2 separate regions of the Homo sapiens genome follow, and region 1 is linked to region 2. Evidence: fine-mapped expression QTL. Tissue or cell type: whole blood. Region 2 holds a variant in brackets; the other region holds the start of a gene. All regions are shown on one strand. Distances are between the middles of the regions.

Region 1 (8,080 bases), 28 kb before region 2:
TGCTGCCATTACCCAGCGGCAGGGCTCTGAGCCTCTGTTGCATCACAGTTGCTGATCCTGAGCAAGGGGCTTCATTTCTGAGGCCTCAGTTTCCCTACCGGGGAAACGGGGATAATAATAAACTGTGGGAGGCAGGAGAACTTCACAGTTAAGAGCAGCAACTTGGGCCAGGAGTGGTGGCTCACACCTGTAATCCCAGCACTTTGGGAGGCTGAGGCGGGAGGACTGCTTGAGGCCAGGAGTTTGAGACCACCAGCCTGGGCAACATGGCAAAACCCTGTCTCTACTAAAAATAGCAAAATTAACTGGGCACGGCGGCATGTGCCTGTAATCCCAGCTACTCAGGAGGCTGCAGCACGAGAATCACTTGAACCCAGGAGGCAGATGTTGCAGTGAGCCAAGATTGTGTCACTGCACTGCAGCCCGGATGACAGAGTGAGACTCTGTCTCAAAAATAAATAAATTAAAAAAAAAAAAAAACCTACAAAAAGAGCAGCAACTCTGGAGTTAACCCATGGATGTCTGAAATCTCCTCTCTACTACTCACTGGCTTTAGGATCTCAACCTGTCTGTGCCTCAACTTTCTCATCTGGTATGTAGGGGAAATAATGTTTTTTTGTTTGTTTGTTTGTTTTCTTTTTGTGGAGATGGGCTCTTGCTCTGTTGCCCAGGCAGGTCTTGAACTCATGGGTTCAAGTGTTCCTTCCACCTCGGCCTCCCAAAGTGCTGGAAATTACAGGTGCAAGCCATGAAATAATGGTTCTTTTGAGGGTGGTTGTGAAGACTAGATGAGATGGCGCATGTAAAGCTGTCAGCCCAGTGCTTGGCAAGTTGTGAGTGCTAGGCAAACATGAACTATTATTACTAATATGAATGCCTGAGTCACATGGCTGTTGAGGGAGTTAAATGAGATAATGTATGAACACCATCTGGCATGCAATAAATGTTTGCTTAAAAATAAATGCCTGCCTTATGGGAATGGTTTGTGCAAGAAAAATGAGGAGACACTCCCAACAGCACACTCCCACTCAAAGGAGAGTGCTTGGCCATACCTCAGAAGATGGAGGAGTAAAATGTCTTTTTCTATTTGAAGATACAAAAAAGCTTATGCGTAAATAAATAAATAAATCCACAAATGCTGTTTGGCTTGTCTCTAGAAAAATAAGTCAGGGCTGTCTTTTAGAATCTGCCTTGAGACCAGGCATGGTGGCTCATGCCTGTAATCCCAGCTCTTCAGGAGGCCAAGGTGGGTTGATGACCTGAGGTCAGGAGTTTGACGCCAGCCTGGTGAACAGGGCGAAACCCCGCATCTACTGAAAATACAAAAATTAGCCGGGCGTGGTGGCAGGCGCCTGTAGTCCCAGCTACTTGGAAGGCTGAGGCAGGAGAATAGCTTGAACCTGGGAGGTGGAGGTTGCCGTGAGCTGAGATTGAGCCACTGCACTCTAGCCTGGGCAACAGAGGGAGACTCCATCTAAAAACAAACAAACAAAAAACAAAGAAAACAAGAATCAGCCTTGAAAGGGTCTTCAGAGAATATGTGGACCAGCCCTGCTGTTTTAGGGCTGGGGAGGCCCAGCGAGACGCAGTGACTTGCTTCAGATCACACAGCGAGCTGGGGGTGAGCACGGAGATTTCCTGTCCACAGTTTGTGGTGGGGGTTGCAGACACCTCAGTACAAATCCCCACTCTTGGGTGGAGGGCTGGGACTGAGAGTGGGTGGGTGGGGCAGGGAAGAAGTGACAGGTGTCATAAGTTGCTAAGGAGAGCCAGACAGGAAGTGGACAGCAAACTAGGAAAGCAGTATTGGGGGAGGACAGCCAAGGCTAGGCTGTCCCTCCCTGGGCAAGGTGCAAGTCCACAGGTGATTAGGGTGTGGCTCTGAGTGAGAAGTCCTAAGAAGAAGGACAAGTTCCCATCTGGGGGAGGAGAGGAGGAGACAGCAACAGAAACACTTGATTTTAGGTTTTCTGAGCCTTAGCTTCCTCATCTTTTTTTTTTTTTTTTTTTTTGACAGGGTCACGCTCTGTCCCCCAGGCTAGAGTGCAGTAGCACAATCATAGCTCACTGCAGCCTCGAACTCCTAAGCTCAAGCCATCCTCCTGCCTCAGCCTCCCAAGTAGCTGGGACTATAGTCGTGTACCACCAAACCTGGATAATTTTTAAATTTTTTGTAGAGGTGGGGTCTCACTATGCTGCCCAGGCTGGTCTTGAACTCCTGGCCTCCAGTGATCCTCTGGTCTTAGCCTCCCAAAGTGTTGGGACTACAGATGTGAGCCATTGCACTCCACCCCTCATCTTTGAAATGAAGCTGAAAAGCCCATCTCATAGGGTAGTTGGGAGGTGTAATAGAAAAAAAAAAGCATTGGGCATGTATAGTACCTGACACACAGCAGGCCCTCAAGAAAGGCAGTTTTTTGTTTTTGTTTAGTTTTGAGACAGAGTCTCGCTCTGTCACCCAGGCTGGAGTGCAGTGGCACGATCTTGGCTCACTGCAACCTCCAGCTCCTGGGTTCAAGCGATTCTCCTACCTCTGCCTCCCAAGTAGCTGGGATTACAGGCTTGCACCACCATGCCCCGCTAATTTTTTTGTATTTTTAGTAGAGATGGGGTTTAACCATGTTGGCCAGGCTGGTCTCCAACTACTGACCTCAGGTAATCTCCCACCTCAGCCTCCCAAAGTGCTGGGATTACAGGCGTGAGCCACCACGCCCAGCTGACAGTTTTCTTTCTCCCTGTCTCCCTTCCGGTCTGGGCAAGGAGGAAAGAGAGGAAAGAATCATCCATTCCTTAGCAAGAAGTGACTGTGGGCAGAGGCCAGGTCATGTCTCAGAACTGCCGACGTCAGAAGACACCACTCCCATAGAGACCATCCTGCCTAGCCCTTCCCCCTGGGGCACAGAGCAGAGAACCCACTTGCTCGAGGCCATACTGCCTGGGCCGCTGCAGGCCTGGGTTCATCAGAGGTCTCCAAGTCCTGTTACACTGTGGCTTCCCCTCTGCAGGAAAGTTTATTTTACTGGGTTTGTTTTGGAGGGTGGTGGGTAAGATGGAAACAGAAACCAAGCAACGGGTCCCCAGCCCAGCTGCGAGGCCGTGCCTGACCAGCCGACTGGCCAAGGTGAAGGATACACATCTCTCATGGCTTCCAGGGTGGACGCCCGCAGAATGTCTCGGATGCCGATGACATTCTCATGGCGGAAGCGCAGCAGGATCTGGATCTCCCGGAGCGTGCGCTGGCAGTAGGTCTGATGTTCGAAGGGGCTGATCTTCTTGATGGCCACGCGAGTCTTGCGCACGTGGTCATAGGCCGAGCTGAGGGGACCGGAGAGAGGCTGCTGCTGTGGCCTTACAAAGGGGGAGTCCGGGCCTGGTGGCCCCACCCAGGCCTTGGCAGGGAGGGGAGAGAGCAGGAGCTGGCTCTGGTCAAATCATAAACAATGCTGGTTCCTTCCTGCTGTGGAGGCCTGGGATCTCCAGAGAGAAAGCTGGGGACCAGCCAGGCGGCCCTTCGGTGACTTTACAAACAGAGGAAGAGACTGACCGCTCACTGACTTCCCCTCTCCTCAATCCCCTTCCATTCTACTGGCCCTGAACCCTTCGCCCCCATTCCCAGGAAAGGCTCCTTAACCCAAGACAGGTCCGGGGGTGCAGATGCTGGGGACACACCATGGGGCAAATACTGGGAAGGTGGCAGCCAGGGGAGGGGCAGGAGAGAATGGACAGGGCAGGGGAGGGTCCCAGGGTGAGGGATCCGGGCAGCGGGGCTGTCCCAGAGGGATAGAGGCCCAGAGCACACGGTGGGGCCGGGGGCACTCACAGACCCCTCCCAAAACATGCAGGTGGCACTCCTGGCCGCCTCATCTCTCTCTGGGCCCCTGGGGTGGTGGGGCCAAAGCCCTGCCCCACCCTGATCTCGGCTCTTCTCCCCCAGGCTCCCTGGCACTGCCTCACAGGGGGAATCCAAGACACCCTTTCCCCCAAAACGGGCCCTCCACTGCCTCTTCACTAAGGATGTCGCCTCCCCGAGAGTACTCATCCTCTGGGCCTCGCCCCGTGTCACTAGGGTCCCCGCGGGCCCCCACATGCACTCGGATGCCCCTCCCATCATTACAGAAGGGTGGACTCAAAGCCTCCAAGCCTGCTCCCCTGAGGACGTAGGCAGCGCCCCCTCCCCCAGAAAGCACTCAGGGGCCCCCTCCCTGGGACGCTCCCGATCATCCCGAGTCTCCTGCCTCCTCGGGACGCTCCGCGTCTCCACGTCCCGGAAAGCGCTCGGCGCCTCCTCCTCCTCTCCCGCGAAGCCCCCTCCCCTGAGGGCACCCCCTCCCCCGGAACGCCCCCTCACCTGACCATGCCGTACGCGCCCTCGCCGATGTACTGCAACTGCGTGTAGCGCGGGCCCACGTCGAACGGCTGCCCCTTCACCATCTCCACCTCCCCCGGGACCCCCGGGCCGACCCCCTCGGTTCTACGGGGCTCCCCGCCCCCGCCCCCCTGAGCCGCCGCCGCCGCCATCTCCACTCCTCCCCTCCCACCGCCCTCCTCCCCACGGCGGCCCCGCCCGAGGCCCCGCCCCTTCCCGCCTGCCTGTCACCCGCAGGGCCGCGCGCGCCAGGCCCCGCCCTTGCCCCGGCCCCGCGTGGGCCTGGAGCTGTCACGTGACCCGCCCCGCGCGCGCCCGCCCTTCTTGCCCCAGGTTCGGGGGCCATGGGTCCCTGCGGGCTCCGCGGCCTCCAGGTCACCGGGAGGTTCGGCAGCGCCGCCTCGGAGACTGTCCTCACCCTCCCCTCGATGGCGAAGCGGCCAGGGCGTGACCTACCAGAGCCACCCAGCCAATGTATGCGGCAGCCCACCAGAACCTGGGCCCGGGATCACCCTAGGTTAAAAATAATGTTCTAATAAATGGATCAAATTTTACAGATGGAGAATCTGAGAGTTAGGTTTACTAACTTGGGTAAGGTCACTAGTAGTGACAGCTGAGACTCAAAATGGTGTCTTCTGACACAGAGACTCTTTCTAATTCCATGCCTCTCAGAGTCCTAGACTGTTTTTATTTTATTATAGAGACAGGGTCTCTCTCTGTCGTCCAGGCTGGAGTGTAGTGGTGCAATAATTGCTCACTGCAGCCTCAACCTCCCTGGGGTCAAGTGATCCTCCCACCTCAGCCTCCCAAAGAGCTGGGACTACGAGTGCGCGCCACCACGCCCTGCTAATTAAAAAAAAAAATTGGGGGGCTGGGCACGGTGGCTCACGCCTGTAATCCCAGCACTTTGGGAGGCCGAGGTGGGCAGATCACCTGAGTTTGAGACCAGCCTGACCAACATGGTGAAACCCCGTCTCTACTAAAAATACAAAAATTAGCTGGGCATGGTGGCACGTGCCTGTAATCCAAGCTACTTGGGAGACTGAGGCAGGAGAATCGCTTGAACCCGAGAGGAGGAGGTTGCAGTGAGCTGAGATTGCACCACTTCACTCCAGCCTGGGCGACAGAGCAACACTCCGTCTCAAAAACAAAAAACAAAAAGAAGAAGAGAAAAAGTAGGGTTGCAGAAGGTAGGGACTGAAGAAAGGCATGAAGGAGAAGGATCGGGGTGAGCTGAGGCATAAAGGCAGAAGCATAACTTGTCCAGCATGGCTGCAGTAAAAAAATGATGAGGTTTCAGCCTGGAGAGGTAGGTTGGGGCCAGATTAGGAAGGCTCTGGATTCTGGCAAGGAGTTTGGATGTTACTCAGTAAGCAGTAAAAACCCTAGAGGGACTTTTGCCAGATCATTTTGCAACTGCGGGAGAATATAGTGACTCAGAGAAAACACTATGGAGTTCAGCATGGAGCCAGGTTTGCTGAGTGGGAGTGAGTTTCCCAGCATAGGAAAGGCTGGTGTATCAGAGCTGCAAGCTGCCACCTCCTGCTGCTGGAAGCTCAGTTAGAGTGTGACTGAGATTCCCCTCTAGTGACTGAGGTTGGCATTTCCTTGGAGGACTGGACTGGGATTTGTTCTGGTTCATAGACGCATATTCAACTAATGTAGACTTACCATCTCTTCTGTGCCAGGCACTTTTGGTTTTTTTTTGTTTGTTTGTTTGTTTGTTTTTTTGAGACGGAGTCTTGCTCTATCACCCAGGCAGGAGTGCAAGCTCACTGCAACCCCTACCTCCTGGGTTCAAGTCATTCTCCCACCTCAGCCTCCCAAGTAGCTAGGATTACAGGCGCCAGCCACCACGCCCGGCTAATTTTTGTATTTTTAGTAGAGACGAGGTTTCACCATGTTGGCCAGGCTGGTCTCAAACTCTTGACCTCAGGTGATCCACCCACATTGGCCTCCCAGAGTGCTGAGATTACGGCACCTGGCTTGCCAGGCACTTTTATGTACACTACCTCCTGTAATCCTCACAGCAGCCATATGAAGTAGATACTATTAACATTTAACTGGAAAATGATGCTGGCTGGTCGTGGTGGCTCACCTCTGTGATTCCAGCACTTTGGGAGGCTGAGGCAGGCTGATTGCTTGACCCCAGCAGCTGGAGACCAGCCTGGGCAACATAGTGAGATCCCATCTCTACCAAAAATACAAAAATGAGCTGGGTGTGGTGGCATGCGTCCGTAATCCCAGCTACTTGGGAGGCTGAGGCAGGAGGATCAGTTGAGCCCAGGATGTTGAGGTTGCAGTGAGCTCTGATGGTGCCACTGCACTCCAGCCTGGGTGACAGAGTGAGAGACCCTGCCCCCACCCCCACCCCCCCAAAAAAAGGGACAGAGGGAAAACGATGTGGAAGCTTACGCTCTGTCACCCAGGCTGGAGTGCAGTGGCGCGATCTCAGCTCACTGCAAGCTCCGCCTCCCAGGTTCACGCCATTCTCCTGCCTCAGCCTCCTGAGTAGCTGGGACTGCAGACACCCGCCACCATGCCTGGCTAATTTTTTGTATTTTTAGTAGAGACGGGGTTTCACCGTGTTAGCCAGGATGGTCTCCATCTCCTGACCTCATGATCCACCTGCCTCGGCCTCCCAAAGTGCTAGGAGTACAGGCGTGAGCCACTGTGCCCGGCAGAATTATTTTTCTAGCACAGGGTCTTGCTCTGTTGCCCAGGCTGGAGTGGAGTGTAGTGGCAAGATCATAGGTCACTGCAGGCTCGAACTCTTAGGCTCAACAGATCCTGCCACCATGCCTAGCACACACAACCACGCCTAGCTAATTTTTTTTTTTTGTTTTTGAAACGGAGTCTTGCTCTGTTGCCCAGGCTGGAGTGCAATGGTGCAATCTCAGTTCACTGCAACCTCTGCCTCCCGGGTCTCCTGCCTCAGCCTCCTGAGTAGGTGGAACTACATGCGTGTGCCACCATGCCTGGCTAATTTTTTGTATTTTTATTAGAGAGGGGGTTTCACCGTGTTAGCCAGGATGGTCTCTATCTCCCGACCTCGTGATCCGCCCGTGTCGGCCTCCCAAAGTGCTGAGATTACAGGTGTGAGCCACTGCGCCCAGCATTTTTTTTTTTTTTTTTGAGATGGAGTCTCCCTCTGTGCCCAGGCTGGAATGCAATGGCACAATCTCGGCTCACCTTGACCTCTACTTCCCAGGTCAAGCGATTCTCCTGCCTCAGCCTTACAAGTAGCTGGGATTACCGGCACACGTCACCACGCCTGGCTAATTTTTATATATTTAGTAAAGATGGGGTTTCACCATGTTGGCCACGCAGGTTTCAAACTCCTGACCTCAAGTGATCTGCCCACTTTGGCCTCCCAAAGTGCTGGGATTACAGGTGTGAGCCACCGTGCCTGGCTTGGCTAATTTTTAGAATGTTTGTAGAGAAGGGTTCTAGCTAATGTTGCCCAGTCTGGTCTCAAATTTCTAGGCTCAAGTGATCCTCTCACCTCGGCCTTTCGGAGTGCTAGGATTACAGTCATGAGCCACTTCGGCTGGCTCCAGATTAAATCTTAAACCAGTTATTAGCTTTTTGTGATTTTCAAGGTCTGGCACTTCTTTTTTTCTTTCTTTCTTTCTTTTTTTTTTTTTTTGAGGCAGTGTCATGCTGTGTCGCCCAGGCTGGACTGCAGTGGTGCGGTCATGGCTCACTGCAACC
Region 2 (8,099 bases):
ATTCCATCATTGAAAGGTAGGAACATACAGCATAACTTAAAATTAGGAACAGAGTTCACATATAACTTTTTTTTTTTTTTTTTTTGAGATGGAGTCTTGCTCTGTCACCAGGCTGGAGTGCAGTGGCGCAATCTTGGCTCACTGCAACCTCTGCCTCCCAGGTTCAAGCAATTCTTCTGCCTCAGCCTCTTGAGTAGCTGGGACTACAGGCACGTGCCACCACACCCAGCTAATTTTTTTTGTATTTTTAGTAGAGACGCGGTTTCATCATGTTGGTGAGGCTGGACTCGATCTCCTGATCTTGGGATCCACCCGCCTTGGCTTCCCAAAATGCTGGGATTACAGGCATGAACCACCACACCCAGCCACCTTTTTTTTTTTTTTCTTTTTCTTTTTGAAGACAGAATCTTGCTCTGTTGCCCAAGCTGGAGTGCAGTGGCGCAATCTCAGCTCAATGTAGCCCCCACCTCCTGGGTTCAAGTGAGTCTCCTGCCTCAGGCTCCCGAGCAGCTGGGATTACAGGCATCCGCCATCACACCTGGCTAATTTTTGTATTTTTAGTACAGACGAGGTTTCACCATGTTGGTCAGGCTGGTCTCGAACTCCTGACCTCAAGTGATCCGCCCGCCTCAGCCTCTCAAAGTGCTAGGATTACTGGTGTGAGCCACTGCGCCTGGCCCATATAACCTTTTTAAAAAATAACAGCTTTATTGGAATATAAAACATACACCATTAAGTTTACCCTTTCAAAGTGTACAGTTTGGTGGGTTTGGTTTTTAGTTGATTCACAAAGTTCATCTGTCACCACTATGTAATTCCAAAATATTTTCACCCCAGGAAGAAACTCTATACTAATTGGCAGCCACTCCCTGTCCCCTCCCTACTCCCCAAGTCCCTGGCAACCACTAATCTAATTATTGTCTCCATGGATTTGCCTATTCTGGACAGACCACATGTAAAGTTTTTGCTTAATCTGATTAATTGATAGGTTCCACTTTTACAGATAAATAGCTTTTCATGTCAGCAAAAATGAAAGATTTAAAATGTAGTACTAGGCTGGTCACAGTGGCTCACGCCTGTAATCCTAACACTTTGGGAGGCCAAGCTAGGTGGATCACTTGAGCTCAGGCATTCAACACCAGCTTGAGCAACATGGCAAAACCCGGTCTCTACAACAAATACAAAAAATTAGCCGGGTGTGGTGGTGCATGCCTGTGCTCTCAGCTCCCAGCTACTTGGGAAGCTGAGGTGGGAGGATCACTTGACCCTGGGAGGCAGAGATTGCAGTGAGCCAAGATCACACTACTGCATTCCAGCCTGGGCAACAGAGTGAGACCCCATCTCAAAAAAAAAAAAAATATATATATATATATATGTAGTACCTGACCTCCCCCAAAGTTATTTGAGGTTCAAATGATTTATTTCAGCCTCCACTTAACTAGAGCTGACCTCTTATTAGACACCTTGGGGACATTACTATGAGCCTTAAAGAAATAAAAAGTATTATAAAGGAATACAATAAATAGTTGTATGCCAATTAATTAAACAACTTAGAAAAATGGACAAAGTCCTAGAAAAACAAGAAAAACCTACCAAATTTCAGGAAGAAATGGAAATTCTGAATAGACATATAACAAGTAAATAGATTGAAGTAGTAATAAAAAACTTCCCACAGGTTGGCGTGGTGGCTCATGCCTGTAATCCCAGCACTTTGGGAGGCCGAGGTGGGCAGACCACGAGGTCAAGAGATCAAGACTATCCTGGCTAACACCGTAAAACCCCGTCTCTACTAAAAAAAAATTAGCCAGGCATTGTGGTGGGTGCCTGTAGTCCCAGCTACATGGGAAGCTGAGGCAGGAGAATGGTGTGAACCCAGGAGGTGGAGCTTGCAGTGAGATGAGATCGTGCCACTGCACTCCAGCCTGGGCAACAGAGCGAGACTCCCTCTCGAGAGAAAAAACAAAAACAAAAACAAAAACTTCCACAAAGGCTCATGCCCACAGGGCTTCACTGCTGTATTTAACTAAACATTTAGAGAAAAATTAATACCAGTTTTTCATAAACTCTTTCAAAAAATAGAAGAAGAGGCAACATTTCCCAACTCTTTTTATGAGGCCAGTATTACCCTGATGCCAAAGCCAGACATAAGAAAGGAAACTACAGATCAGTATTTCTTATTAATATAGAGGCAAAAATCTTCAAATACCAGCAGACAGAATCCAGCACCACATCAAAAGGACAGTACACCATGATCAAGTGCGAATGATCCCAGGAATGCAAGGCTGGTTCAATATCTGAAAATACATTAACTTAATACACCATAATTTTAGAATAAATGGAAAAAAGCAATTAATCATCTCAATAAATGCAGAAAAAAACTTTGACAAAATTCAACATTCTTTCGTAAGAAAAAAACCATGCAACAAACTACAAGTAAAAGACAACTTCCTCTACCTGATAAAGAGCATCTGTGAAAAACCCACAGCTGACATCATACTTAATGGTGAAAGTTCCTGACAGATCAAAATAAGACAAGGAAGTCCGCTCTTACCACTTTTATTCTGTATTGTACTGGAGATTCTAGCCAGGAAAATTAAGCAAGAAAGTGAAATAAAAGGCATCTAGATTGGAAAGAAAGAAGTGAAACTATCTATAGATTACATGATCTTGTATATAGAAAATATACAAGATCCAAGGCCGGGCGTGGTGGCTTATGCCTGTAATGCCAGCATTTGGGAGGCCAAAGTGGGCAGATCATTTGAGATCAGCAGTTTGAGACCAGCCTGGCAAACATGGTGAAACTCCGTCTCTACTAAAAATACAAAAAATTAGCTGGGCATGGTGGTGCACACCTGTAATCCCAGCTACTCAGAGTCTGAGGCAGGAGAATCCCTTGAAGCTGGTAGGCAGAGTTTGCAGTGAGCTGAGATCGTGCCACTGCACTCCAGCCTGGGTGACAGAGTCAGACTCTGTCTCAAACAAAACAAAACAAAAACAAAAAAAGAAAATATATAAGATCCTGTAAATCCTAAGGAACCCACTAAAAAATCAGAACTTTAATCGCCAGGGAAATGCAAATCAAAACCTCTGAAGAAAAAACACAAACTGTTTTTTTTCTTGGCTCTCACACCACAGTAACAATCACTACAGAAGTCTTCTGTGACCGGGCTGGGTGCGGTGGCTCACATCTGTAATCCCAGCACTTTGGGAGGCCAAGGTGGGTGGATCACGAGGTCAGGAGTTCAAGAACAGCCTGACCAACGTGGTGAAAACCTATCTCTACTAAAAACACAAAAAGAATAGCCAGGTGTGGTGGCAGGCACCTGTAATCCCAGCTACTGGGGAGGCTGAGGCAGGAGAAATGCTTGAACCAGGGAAGCAGAGGTTGCAGTGAGCAGAGATCACACCACTGAACTCCAGCCTGGGCAACAGAGTGAGACTTGGTCTCAAAAAAAAAAGAAAAGAAAAGGAAAAGAAAAAAGAAAAAAAAAAGAAGTCTTCTGTGACCAAATGTTGGGGGGAACTCCTGCCAACACCAAGCAAACAACCAATTCTCCAATGGACAATTCTGAATTGAGTGTCCTCCAATTCAATTCCAACACTATCTACCTGAAGATAGCATCAGATCCCACAAGTTGAGGGTTCAATCCCACAAGACTGCACCCCTACACACACCAGAACTTCTGACCGACTGGCTTCAAATTGGGGTTTCCATGATTCCCTCTTTTTTTTTTTTTTTTTTTTTTTTTTTTGAGACAGAGTCTCCTCTGCCACCCATGCTGGAGTGCAGTGGCAGAGATCTCAGCTCACTGCAAGCTCCGCCTCCCAGGTTCATGCCGTTCTCCTGCCTCAGCCTCCTGAGTAGCTGGGACTACAGGTGCATGCCACAACGCCCAGCTAATTTTTTGTATTTTTAGTAGAGATGGGGTTTCACTGTGTTAGCCAGAGATGGTTTCGATCTCCTGACCTCGTGATCCGTCCGCCTCGGCCTTCCAAAGTGCTGGGGTTACAGGCATGAGCCACCATGTCTGGCACAGCTCTCTCTTTAGTGAGAGTGGGGACTTCTGAGAGGAAAAGACCAGCAGGTGGGGGATGTGCCATATTTTATAGTCAGATTTGAGGATGTGGTGCCTGATTTACATAGGACTCACAGATTGGTTTGATCAAGAGTGATATTACATAGCATGCAGGGAAGGCTGGCTGCCTCACCCTAATCATATTATGCAAATGAACTTTCCCCTTGGCCTTCGCCATCTTGTCTGCTCTTTACTGTACACGTGGCTGACAAAGAGAAGGGAAGATGGAGCCACCATCTTGAACATGATTGGCACAACTGCCAACATCTATGTCTGCAGCTCGATTTTACAGGCTACTCTTCGTTAGAAAGGAAAATAATTTGGGGCTGCTTTTCATTAAAAGGAGAACCTTACCAAAGACTTCTGTACCCTTACTATCTGCCTAAGTAATTTCTTCTTAACTCCTGTATGACCTCCACATGGTCAGCTATCCGGAAGCTCCCTAAGCCCTGTCCTTTTGGCCTTTTATGGAGACTTAATTGGATAGGCATGACTCAAGCATGGACAAATGTGTAGAAAGGTGATTGGTCAAAAAGGGCACGATCTAATACTAATACCCTGAATGGGGAACCCCAGCAAGGCCCTTGTGTTCAGCAACTCCTTGG[C/T]CTCTCTGTGCAGCTTTCCTTCCTCCAGGGTATGGGCAGGAGTCCTACCGAAATGAAGGTGTCATCAACTACACTCAGACAAGGTATGTCAGAGAGTTTCTTTATGGCCAATTTCAATACAGAAAGGTAGGGGAAGATTCCTGCCTTGGTGAGAAAAAGAAGCAGGTGAAAGGAGAGCAGGAGAAGGTCAAACAGAGAGAGAGAGTTTTTTTTTTTTTTTTTGAGACGGATTCTTGCTCTGTTGCTCAGGCTAGAGTGCAGTGATCTCCGCTCACACTAACCTCCGCCTCCCAGGTTCAAGCGATTCTCCTGCTTCAGCCTCCTAACTGGGACTACAGGCGCCCGCCACCACACCTGGCTAATTTTTGTATTTGTAGTAAAGACGGGGTTTCACCATGTTGGCCAGGCTGGTCTTGAACTCCCGACCTCGTGATTCACCCACCTTGGCCTCCCAAAGAGCTGGGATTACAGGCATGAGCCACCACACCCAGCCAAGAGATTCTTTTTTCAATGAGGCCTGCTTCAGAGGATTGCAGCACTCCAGCATTCTAGCAAGAGCTATGGGAGCTGTGAACCAGGAACTGTGGACAAAATCTAGATGTATATATATATATATCACCAAATCACAATGAGGTGCTGCCTCATACCTGTTACGATGGCCACTATAGAAAACAAAAACAAAAAACACCAAAACCAGAAAATACGTGTGGCAAGAATGAGAGCGAATTGGAAACCCCGTGCACTGTTGGTGGGAATGTAAAATGGTACAGCTAATGTGGAAAACTGTGTGAAAGTTCCTCAAAATATTAAAAATAGAACTACCATATGATCCAGCAGTCCCACTTTTGGGTATTTATTTATTTATTTATTTATTTATTTATTTATTTATTTTTGAGACGGAGCTTCGCTCTTGTCACCCAGAATGGAGTACAATGGTGCGATCTTGGCTCACAGGAACCTCCGCCTCCTGGGTTCATGCGATTCTTGTGCCTTGGTCTCTCAAGCAGCTGGGACTACAGGGGTGTGCTATCACGTCCAGCTAATTTGTGTGTGTGTGTGTGTGTGTGTGTGTGTCTGTGTATGTTTTTTGAGACAGAGTCTCACTCTGTCGCCCAGGCTGGAGTGCAGTGGTGTGATCTTGGCTCATTACAACCTCCATCTTCCGGGTTCAAGTGATTCTCCTGCCTCAGCCTCCTGAGTAGCTGGGATTACAGGCATCTGCCACCATGCAGACTAATTTTTATATTTTTAGTAGAGACGGGGTTTCACCATGTTGGCCAAGCTGGTCTCAAACTCCTGACCTCAGGTCATCCACCCACCTCAGCCTCCCAAAGTGCTGGGATTACAGGCATGAGCCATGTGCCCGGCCTAATTTTTGTGTTTTCAGTAGAGACAGGGTTTCACCATGTCAGCCAGGCTGGTCTTGAACTCCTGACCTCAAGTGATCCACACACCTCAGCCTCCCAAAGTGCTGGGATTACAGGCATGAGCCACGTGCCCGGCCTAATTTTTGTGTTTTCAGTAGAGACAGGGTTTCACCATGTCAGCCAGGCTGGTCTTGAACTCCTGACCTCAAGTGATCCACCCACCTCGGCCTCCCAAAGTGCTGGAATTACAGGTGTGAGCCACTGCGCCTGGCCACTTCTGGGTATTTATCCAAAAGAATTGAAATCAGAATCTCAAAGAGATATCTGCATTCCCATGTTCATTTCAGTATTATTTACAATAATCAAGAGGTGTACACAACCTAAATGTCCACTAACAGATGAATGGATAAAGAAAATGTGAGGCCAAGGTGGGCGGATCACGAGGTCAGGAGATTGAGACCATCCTGGCTAACACGGTGAAACCCCATCTCTACTAAAAATACAAAAAATTAGCCAGGTGTGGTGGCGGGCGCCTGTAGTCCCAGCTACTCAGGAGGCTGAGGCAGGAGAATGGCGTGAACCCGGGAGGTGGAGCTTGCAGTGAGCTGAGATTGCGCCACTGCGCTCCAGCCTGGGTGATGGAGCAAGATTCCATCTCAAAAAAAAAGAAAGAAAGAAAGAAAGAAAATGTGGCACAGACATACAATGGAATATTATTCAGCTGTAAAAAGGAGGAAATCTTGTCATATGCTACAACACAGATGAACCCTGAAGACTGATACAGTTTCGATGTGTGTCTCTGCCCAAATCTCTTGTAGAAATGCAATCCCCAATGTTGGAGGTGGGGCCTGTGGGGAAGTGTTTGGATCACGGGGGCAGATCCCTCATAAATGGCTTGCGCCATCTCCTTAGCAATAAGTGAGCCCTTACTCTGAGTTCACACGAGATCTGACTCTTTAAAAGTTAGTGGCACCCCTCCTCACCCTCTCGCTGTCTTGCTCCTGTTTTCGCCATGACATGCCTGCTCCCCATTCGCCTTCTGCCATGATTTTAAGTTTCCTGGGGCCTCCCCAGAAGCCAAGCAGATGCCAGCACCATGCTTCCTGTACAGCCTGCAGAACCATGAGCCAATTAAACCTCTTTTCACCGTAAATTACCCAGTCTCCGGCATTTCTTTATAGCAAAGCAAGAATGGCTTAAGACAAAGACATTATACTAAGTGAAATAAACCAGTTATAGAAGGACAAAAACTGCATGATTCCACTCATACGAGGTATCTAAAGTAGTCAAACTCACCAAAACAAAAATTAGAAAGGTGATGTTCAGCAGCTGAGGGGAGGGGGAGAGGAGGAGTTGCTGTTTATTGGGTATCGAGTTTCAGTCATGCAAAATGAAAAATTTTAGAATCTGCTGCACTACGTTGTGATCGTAGTTTAAAGTACTGTACACTTAAAACTTGCTCGGGTCCAGGTGTGGTAGCTCATGCCTGTAATCCCAGCACGTTAGGAGGCCGAGGCGGGCGGATCACGAGGTCAGGAGATCGAGACCATCCTGGCCAACATGGCAAAACCCCGTCTCTACTAAAAAATAAATAAATAAAAATTAGCTGGGGATGGTTGCGTGGCATGGAGGCTGAGGCAGGAGAATTGCCGGAACCCGGGAGGCAGAGGCCACAGTGAGCCAAGATCGTGCCACTGCCCCCTAGCCTGGGCGACAGAGTAAGACTCCATCAAAAGCAAACAAACAAACAAAAATCAACAACAAAAACTTGCTAGGAGGGTACATCTCATGTTATATGTTTTATCACAATAAGAAAATAAAACTGGCCAGGCACAGTGGCTCACACCTGTAATCCCAGCACTTTGGGAGGCTGAGATGGAAGGATCTCTTGAGCCCAGGAGTACGAGACCATCCTGGGCAACACCGTGAAACCCCCGTCTCGACAAAAATAAACAAAATCAGCTGGGCATGGTGGTGCATGCATGTGGTCTCAGCTATTTGGGAGGCTGAAGAGAGAGAATTACTTGAGCCTGGGAGGTTGAGGCTGCAGT

What was found. PIP is the estimated chance that this variant, and not a neighbour inherited with it, causes the effect.
Region 1: MAPK3 starts here. The variant in region 2 is fine-mapped to the expression of MAPK3 in whole blood (INTERVAL, PIP 0.93).

What each region holds. Positions count from the first base shown.
Region 1 is chr16:30,118,692-30,126,771 of GRCh38, forward strand. MAPK3 (mitogen-activated protein kinase 3) reads right to left here and starts at 4,529. Exons shown (of 9, transcript NM_002746.3): 1 at 4,349-4,529; 2 at 3,133-3,315. The coding sequence starts at 4,518. RefSeq lists a silencer at 4,521-4,890.
Region 2 is chr16:30,147,164-30,155,262 of GRCh38, forward strand. No RefSeq gene overlaps it. Among named protein-coding and RNA genes, the nearest start is that of MAPK3, 28 kb to the left of the region's middle. The variant C/T (reference allele first, on the strand shown) is at 4,682.